Regions from separate parts of the Homo sapiens genome. Here regions 1 and 2 are each linked to region 3. Evidence: fine-mapped expression QTL. A gene starts in region 3. Each other region holds a variant in brackets. All regions are shown on one strand. Distances are from middle to middle.

Evidence for each region. PIP is the estimated chance that this variant, and not a neighbour inherited with it, causes the effect.
Region 1: its variant is fine-mapped to the expression of CIB1 in whole blood (TOPMed, PIP 0.97).
Region 2: its variant is fine-mapped to the expression of CIB1 in whole blood (INTERVAL, PIP above 0.99).

The regions. Positions count from the first base shown.
Region 1 is chr15:90,286,420-90,289,178 of GRCh38, forward strand. No RefSeq gene overlaps it. Among named protein-coding and RNA genes, the nearest start is that of NGRN, 22 kb to the left of the region's middle. RefSeq lists an enhancer at 745-1,309. The variant G/A (reference allele first, on the strand shown) is at 1,495.
Region 2 is chr15:90,253,400-90,256,158 of GRCh38, forward strand. It overlaps TTLL13 (tubulin tyrosine ligase like 13), which reads left to right. Exons shown (of 15, transcript NM_001396017.1): 5 at 2,356-2,486; 6 at 2,742-2,759. It also overlaps a transcript of CIB1 not described here. Among named protein-coding and RNA genes, the nearest start is that of TTLL13, 5.2 kb to the left of the region's middle. The variant A/G (reference allele first, on the strand shown) is at 1,435.
Region 3 is chr15:90,232,442-90,235,200 of GRCh38, forward strand. CIB1 (calcium and integrin binding 1) reads right to left here and starts at 1,500. Exons shown (of 7, transcript NM_006384.4): 1 at 1,394-1,500; 2 at 1,228-1,262. The coding sequence starts at 1,444. It overlaps GDPGP1 (GDP-D-glucose phosphorylase 1), which reads left to right and starts at 1,768. Exons shown (of 4, transcript NM_001013657.3): 1 at 1,768-1,851; 2 at 2,081-2,155. RefSeq lists silencers at 993-1,442, 1,463-1,902.

The sequences.
Region 1 (2,759 bases), 54 kb after region 3:
TTGAGGCTGCAGTGAGCTGAGATCCACCACTCCACTCCAGCTTGGGCAACAGAGTAAGACCATGTTTGGAAAAAAAAAAAAAAAAAAGTCACTGGGGTTTTCTGGATAAAACGTCTGTTTCCATAAGAAAAAAAAAAAAAAAAAGAAAAGAAAAAAAGGGCGGAGACAGCATGTATTATTGTTTCAAAATCATAACCAGATGCTTAGAGTAAATAATTATATCTATTGTTTCAAAAACCAATCTAAGGATTATTAAAAGTTAGTTTTATTGGATTTTTTTTTAAGCTGCACTGATTCCCTCAGGTCTGTCACTTCCAAGTCCATGTTTTACTACTTTGTAACCCTATTTGGAAGGAAAACTGCAACTAAGACTATGATCTATCCTGAGATGAAAAGTTTCACACATATACAGCACACACACCCCCCACCACAGTATGATGACACAGTGCCACCCTTAGGCAAAAGGGTACCACTGACAGCAAATGCATTTTTTTCTTTATTTCATCTAATTTTTTTTTCTTTATTTCTTCTAAAAGCAGCAAATGCATTTAACATTTTATTGAGATTCTCAACAGCTGCCATTTGGTTTATATAGCAAATTGTTTCTAAAGTAACTTTTTTTCTATTTTTGATATTTTTATGAAAATTATGTTCTTCAGTTTTAAAGCCCTGTCCCTCTCCCAAAGAAAGATTAATAACTACCTACTAAGTAATGAGTATTCGGGAAAATAACAAAAGCAAAAACAGCTTTTAAACACTTGTGAAACAAGGGTAAGGGTCCAAAGTCAAGACCTTCTGGGCCCATTGGAGGTGCTAGGCTTGCCTGGTGACACTATCAGCACTTCCCCATCCACAACATCCTCAACAGCTGGGAGCCCTGTGCGGACCCCGGTGTCGGGGGGCGGGGAGGGGGGCTTCCTGTTCCACAGGCTCCACTCTCTTTTTCCTCTCCACCACTGCTGTTGGGCCTCCCCTCCAAATCTGCCTAACAAAGGCAGCAGGATCTTTAATACTGTTCAGCTTTGTAAATGAAGACAGGATACTCTAGAAAGTTGGGAGATTCCCTGGTCCAGTCTGGGAGAGGAAAAAATATGCAATGTAGCATGGATGGTTTCACTTTCTTGTCCACTCAGCCACATGCTCATACTTATTAAATTAATGTATCAGATGCTTCCAAAGTCCTGACATGTAGCACAAAAGTTGCTTGTAAAAAATAAGTTGCAGGCCGGGCGCAGTGTCTCATGCCTGTAATCCCAGCACTTTGGGAGGCCAAGGTGGGTGGATCACATGAGGTCGGGAGTTTGAGACCAGCCTGGCCAACCTGGAGAAACCCTGTATCTACTTAAAAAATACAAAATTAGCCAGGCATGGTGGCACATGCCTGTAATCCCAGCTACTCGGGAGGCTGAGGCAGGAGAATCACTTGAACCTGGGAGGCAGAGGTTGCAGTGAGCCGAGATAGCGCCATTGCACTCCAGCCTGGGCAAAAATAGC[G/A]AAACTCCGTATCAAAAAAAAAAAAAAAAAGTTAAGTTGCAAAATGATGAAAATTCAGGCTCCTGATGACAAAGCTAGTTCTGATAAGTAGTTACTTTGACATATACGGCAGCTTCGCCTGTAAGTCCTGTGTTCTGAGGGTTTCATTTAGGCCACAGGAAGTTGGAATCCAAGTTTCAAAGGCTCTCTGCTGACAAAATGTGCTATTTCCATCAATGGTCTTCTACTCAGTAATGAAAGGAACAAACTACCAAAACATGTCGTGTCATGGATCAACCTCAAAAACATTAGCTAAGTAAAAAAGCCAGACACGAGACCACATATTGTATAATTCCGTTGATTTGAAATGTCCAGAAAAGACAAATTTATAGAGACAGAAATGGGCTGATTTACCTCAAGAGGCAGGGATTCCGGCTCTCTAGACTGCATGTGATACATACATGAGAAAAAATAGGGAAAATAAAAAAATTTAAATATAAATAAATGAAAATAATACTTCTCCCTGATCATAAAGAAAATCACATTCTTAGAGGCCGGGCATGGTGGCTCATGCCTGTAATCCCAGCACTTTGGAAGGTCGAAGTGGGTGGATCATGAGGTCAGGAGTTCGAGACCAGCCTGTCCATTATAGTGAAACCCCGTCTCTACTAAAAATACGAAAATTAGCCGGGCGTGGTGGTGCATGCCTATAATCCTAGCTACTCAGGAGGCTGAGGCAGGAGAATTGCTTGAATCCAGGAGGTGGAGGTTGCAGTGAGCTGAGATCGCGCCACTGCACCCCAGCCTGGGTGACAGACCGAGACTCTGTCTCAAAAAAAAAAAAAAAAAAAGAAAGTCACATTGTTTTGTAATAATTTGGAAGACAAAATATGAAGAAAAGTCTAATTTTGCCACTCAAAACATTCTGATTTGTTGCTTTTTATACTTTTTTATGCATATAAACATTTTTAAAAGTAGAATCATAACATATAGTCTTTTGTCACTATGTTTTGGGCAGTAAATTTCTATGGCAGTAAATATATCCTTGGCATCATCATTTTTAATAGTTGGATGTATATTAAGTTAATCATTGTCACCCTAGAAGTAAATTTTCTTATATATACATTTTAATGGACTCGAGCAAGCATTTTTGGACTGAATTTATAGAAGTAGAATTTCTGGAGGACAATAACATAAAACAGTTCTAGTGTTTTTAATAAAAATTTTCAAATTATACTGCAGGAAAATTGGTTCAGTTTATACTCCCACCAACAGAGACAGAGCTC
Region 2 (2,759 bases), 21 kb after region 3:
GCTAGGGCCCCAGAATGACTATTCCCACCTCCTTGCCCAGGCACCCAAGACTGCTACTCTTTGTGGCTGTCCCCTTGTGCAGACAAGAAAGACCACCCCCAGGGTCTTCTTTTCCAATGGAAAGATCTCCTCTTGGAGATTGTGGGTTTCTGGAATTACCCAAAGGAAGTTTCTGGTGGGCACATCCTATCTCATGATTTGCACTTTGCTTGGTGGCATCTGTGTGTAGCTGGCCCTCTCCAGGGTGGGTGAGCACATCTTAGGGAGAATACTGGGAGGCAGCTTCAGAGCTAACAGCAGGGCCAGTTGAATGATCCAGCCTTCTAAGCAACTTAGTTTAGCATTCCACATCCATTAGGAGACTGCGGGGTCCTGCCTGGTGGCAAGAAATTCAGGAATGATCCACCGGGGTCCACAAGAATAGAACTGCCTTGTGACATTTTTATTATCCTCTAATTGGGCGTTTGTGGTGATCAGCAATAAAATAATTTAAAAGAGTCTGCAGGCTTATTCTTTGGGGAAGCCAGGCAGGAAGTTGAGGAAATTAAAACCTGTCCCACAACTAGTCTTGGGAGAGGTGCCCAAGAGAGAAAGCAAGTGCTAGAAGTTCTCAAGAAGCTCCAGAGGAGGTTGGGTGTGGTGGCTCACACCTGTAATCCCACCACTTTGGGAGGCCAAGGCAGGTGGATCAATTCAGGTCAGGAGTTCACTTGAACCCAGGAGGTGGAGGTTGCAGTGAGCAGAGATCATGCCACTACACTCCAGCCTGTGTGACAGAGTGAGACCCTGTTTTTTTTTTTTTTAAAAAAAAAAGGCTGGGCACAGTGGCTCACGCCTGTAATCCCAACTCTTTGGGAGGCCGAGGCGGGCGGATCATGAGGTCAGGAGTTCAAGACCAGCCTGACCAACAGGGTAAAACCCCATCTCTACTAAAAATACAAAAATTAACCAGGCATGGTGGCGCACACTTGTAATCCCAGCTATTTAGGAGGCTGAGGCAGGAGAATCACTTGAACCCAGGAGGCGGAGGTTGCAGTGAGCCAAGATTGTGTCATTGCACTCCAGCCTGGGTGACAGAGTGAGACTCCATCTAAAAAAAAAAAAAAAAAAAGGACGCTCCAAAGGAGGGGCATTTGTAAAATGAGGAATGCAGGCTGGGCACGGTGGACGGTGGCTCTCGTGCCTGAAATCCCTTTGGGAAGCCAAGGTGGGCAGATTGCTTGAACTCAGGACTTTGAGACCAGCCTGGGCAACAGGCAAAACCCCATCTCTACCAAAAATACAAAAATAAAAAAATATTAGCCAGGCGTAGTGGTGCATGCTTTAGTCCCAGCCACTTGGGAGGCTGAGGCAGGAGGATCTCTTGAGCCTGGGAGGCAGAGGCCGCAGTGAGCTGAGATCACACCACTGCACTCCAGCCTGGGCGACAGAGGG[A/G]GACCCTGTCTCAGGGAAGGGGGAAAAAAAAAGGATAAGGATAACAATAATCAGCAGCATTTACTGAGGGCTTACTGTACAACAGACTCCGTGTTAAGTGCTTTTATAGTATTACCCCATTAAATCCTCAAGAACAGCCCTGAGCAGCAGATATCCCTTGGTTAGGACATGGAGGGTCAGAAATACTAAGTTCATACAGTGAGTGCGGCCAGTGATGGGGAAACCCAGTGGAGAGCACTTAGCATACTCTTTGTGGCTGTCCCCCTGTGCAGACAGGAAAGACCATCCCCAGGGTATTCTTTTCCAACGGAAAGATTCTCCTCCTGGGTCTCTGGAATTACCTGAAGGAAGTGTCTGGTGGGTACATCCTATCTCATTATTTGTTCTTTACTTGGTGGCATCCCGGATGCTGCCACCCATCCAGCAGGACAGAGCAGCCAGGGGTTTCTGGCAGGCACCAGGGTGATGCCATGCCCTCAGTGGGTGCCATGGCATCACATTCCTTGGGGCTGGTTCTTAGTTTCCTTTTATCTTTTGTGTCTTTTGGGGAATGCTTTCGTCTCATTGTCTGCTTTGTGCTATCATGCATTAGTTATTGTTAGAGGACTAGGCCTGGTGGTCTGAGGGGTGTTAGAAGGTGGACTGTGGAAGCCACAGTCTTGGCTAGTTACATTCCTTCTCACTGCCCCTCATTTGCTGAGCTCAGTGTGGATGTGTGTGTTGGGTAGGAGTCACAGAGGGTTTTCTCACCTGCCTTAAGGAACCTTCCTATGTTTGCCCTTGGGGTCCTTGGTGCAGTGCTTACCTCCACTGTGACTTCTCCCTTAACCTTCCCAATCCTCCTCCACTGCTTCCTGGGATGCCCAGGTGCTAGGAAATGCCACTTACTCTGGGGGCTCATACTAACTGGCTGTGTTTCAGAAAATCAACCACTTCCCTGGCATGACAGAAATCTGCCGCAAAGATCTGCTGGCTCGGAACCTCAACCGCATGTACAAACTCTATCCCTCTGAGTACAACATCTTCCCCCGCACCTGGTGCCTCCCCGCAGAGTGAGTGGGTCTGGCTTCCCATGCTGAGATACCAGGGGGAGGAAAAGGGTCGCTCTCAGAGCTCTGGTCTTGTGACCTAGGAATGTCTCAGAGGGATGGAAGTGGAATGAGAAAGTTTCAGCTGGTCAAAGAAAAGAGGGTCTGAGACTGAGTGCTCCAGGAAGAGCATGGACTAGATAGCAGGAAGAGCTCCATGCGGCCCCGGGAAAGCCTTGATGCACAGAAACCTTTTGACCAGGCCCTCTCTGCACATAGCTATGGGGACTTCCAGTC
Region 3 (2,759 bases):
ACAGAACTTCCGAGTCATCAGGCAACGGTAAGCAAAAGGACATGTCACAAGGCAGTACAGCCTAGGAGTCTATTCTTGCAATGAGTATTTACTGAGCATTTACTATGTGCTTGGCACTGATTCTAGAGATCCCCAAGGGATGAAGAAGTTGGGAAAGGAGCCAGAAGTTGGCCCTAAAGAATTGGCCAGGCACGGTGGCTCACACCTGTAATCCCAGCACTTTGGGAGGCCAAGGCGGGCGGAGCTTTGGAGGTCAGGCGTCTGAGACCAGTCTGAGCAACATGGTGAACCCCTTCTCTACTAAAAATACAAAAATTAGCCGGGCATGGTGGCGGGTGCCTATAATCCCAGCTACTCAGGAGGCTGAGGCAGGAGAATCACTTGAACCCGGAGGCAGGAGAATCACTTGAACCCGGAGGCAGAGCCTGCAGTGAGCCAAGATCGTGCCCCAGCACTCCAGCCTGGGCGACAGAGCGAGACGCTGTCTCAAAAAAAAAAAAACGGAGAAAAGAGCAAAACCAAAAATCTCATTCTCACCTTCACTCCAGGGATCTCTTACCCTCAAAGCCTCCTTTTTAGCAACCACACTGAACTGTCCTCCTCGGCCTCCACCTCCTTCCCATGAGCTTATCTTTGCCACAGGAACCTGGCCTGCATAAATCCGGCAAAAGGGCTTCCAGCCCAAGTTCAAATCTACTTACTCAGAGTGTTGTCTTAAGCAGTTACCAAACCTTTCTGAACCTGTTTCATTGTCCAGTACCTCTCTCCTAAAGATTAAATTAGGTAACGCAGGCAACCATTTAGCACAGTCCCTGGCACATGGTGAGTGCTCAGAAAGCGATAACGGTTACTGTATTATTCAGGTAAAGTTGGGAGAAGGAGCCGGGCTCCCCAAGGCTTCTGTGGTTTAGCCACTGGGCAAGGTCGGCCCCTGCCGGACTGGGGCAGGAAGTTCGGCAGTGCTGAAGCTAGTGGAGCCCAGGGTCAAAGAGCGCCTAACTTTTCCTGGAGGCTGTAAGGTGGCTCCGCGGTGCCACGCTGGGGCCTCAGGCGAGGGCGGGGAGGGCGTGCCGGGAGGAGGGCGCAGCCCGGGCTAGGTCTCCCGGCCTCCAGCTCCCGCTCCTCTGCAGACCTCAGGCCAGCCCCCGCCCCTCCCTCGGGACAGCGCCCCCGAAGCTGTCTCTAGAGGATCCCGGGGTCGGAGGCAGGGTTCAAGGCAGCACTTACAGGAGGATCTCCTGCTTCGTCAGGAACGTCAAGTCCTGGAAGGCAAAGCCAGAGCGGGGATTAGCGGACCGCTGGGAGGCCGCGGCCGCCCCGCAGCCAGCTCCCGGACCCTGCTCCCGAGAAGAGGCCCGCACGCGAGCTCCCCAGGGCCAGGCGTCCCGCGCACCTGGTACTCGGCCAGCAGCTCCTTGGACAGGCGACTGCCCGAGCCCCCCATCGCCCCGCCGCGCGCACAGCTCCGCCAACTCGCCTCGAGACGCAGACAACTTTCTCACTTCCGCCCTTGGGCCGCGTCACTGCCCGGTCCCCGCGGCAACCGCTCCTGGGGCCACCACCCCCGGGCCCGCCCCCTCCTAAAAGCTGCCAGGCGTTCCCAGCCGGGTTTGGCAGGCGAGCTGCCGGCTCCAAGCGGTCCTAGGCGAGCTGGAGGCGGGGCCCGGGGAGGGGCCCGACGCTCCGGGGCGGAGCCCGGGACTCACGGCCCCGCCTCCGGGGTGGGAGGGGGGGGCGGGCCACGCCGCGCGCGTGCGTGCTGGCTGCGTATGCGTCACGGGCGTCATGACCTCGCTGTGGCCCCGGCAGCGGCTGCGGGGAAAGTCGCGAGGTGCATCCGCTTCGGCTGCAGTAGGTGGTGGCGGCGGCAGCCCTGGGTGGGGTCCCATAGGGGCATCTGAGAAGTCACTGGAGCTAGCGTTTCCGGGAAACCTGGAGACTCGCTGAGTGGCGGGGGTCGTCGGCTGCCCCTCTGCCCAGCAAGGGCTTTTCTAGATGTTATCATCAGGCAATCGCTGCACCTGTCGCAGCCCCCAAGCCACCTCTTCCAGAAGTAACCATAACCTTGCTTCCTTCTTAGGCTATTTACTGAGGACCCACTGGATGTCAAGCATTGTGCATAGTTTTCTTCGATTGTTGCAACATCCCTTGCGAGGTAGGTTCCCATTTTACAAAGATGGAAATACGTAAGTCCAAAGGGTGTTAGTGATTTTTCCGGGCGCCGGCATTTAGAAGGTAATCGGTCCAGTCCAAGGCACTTTTAAAGGCTCTCCACTGCTGTTCTCATCATTCCAGCTGACCTGCCGTCCTTTTGACTCCATCTCACCCCTAGACTGCTGACCCTTTGCTCTTGTCCCCTCTTAACCTCTAGGATAATGTTTGGCACATAGTAGGCTCTCAGTAAATATTATCGAATGCATAATAAATGAATGAACGTATACTATTGCAAAAGGTAAGGATTCCAAACTGCTGGGAGGAGGAAGTGGAGGTTGTGTTGGTCAGGCTGGGATTAATTCTTGATCCTTCCAATCCATTATACTTGCTGATCTTTGTAAAGTCTAAATCTGAGTATGTTAGTCTCAGTTTATAACCATTAAATGGTTAAAAACCCAAATCCTGGCCCTCTGTAACTGGACTTCCTCCTATTGGCTCTCTGTCTTTCAGCCACTTTGGGCCCTCAGTCCCTCTTCCATCTCATCCTCAGGGAAGCCTTTCCTGACTCCCTAGACTGCCTAGGAATCTACTTTACACTGGAAGAA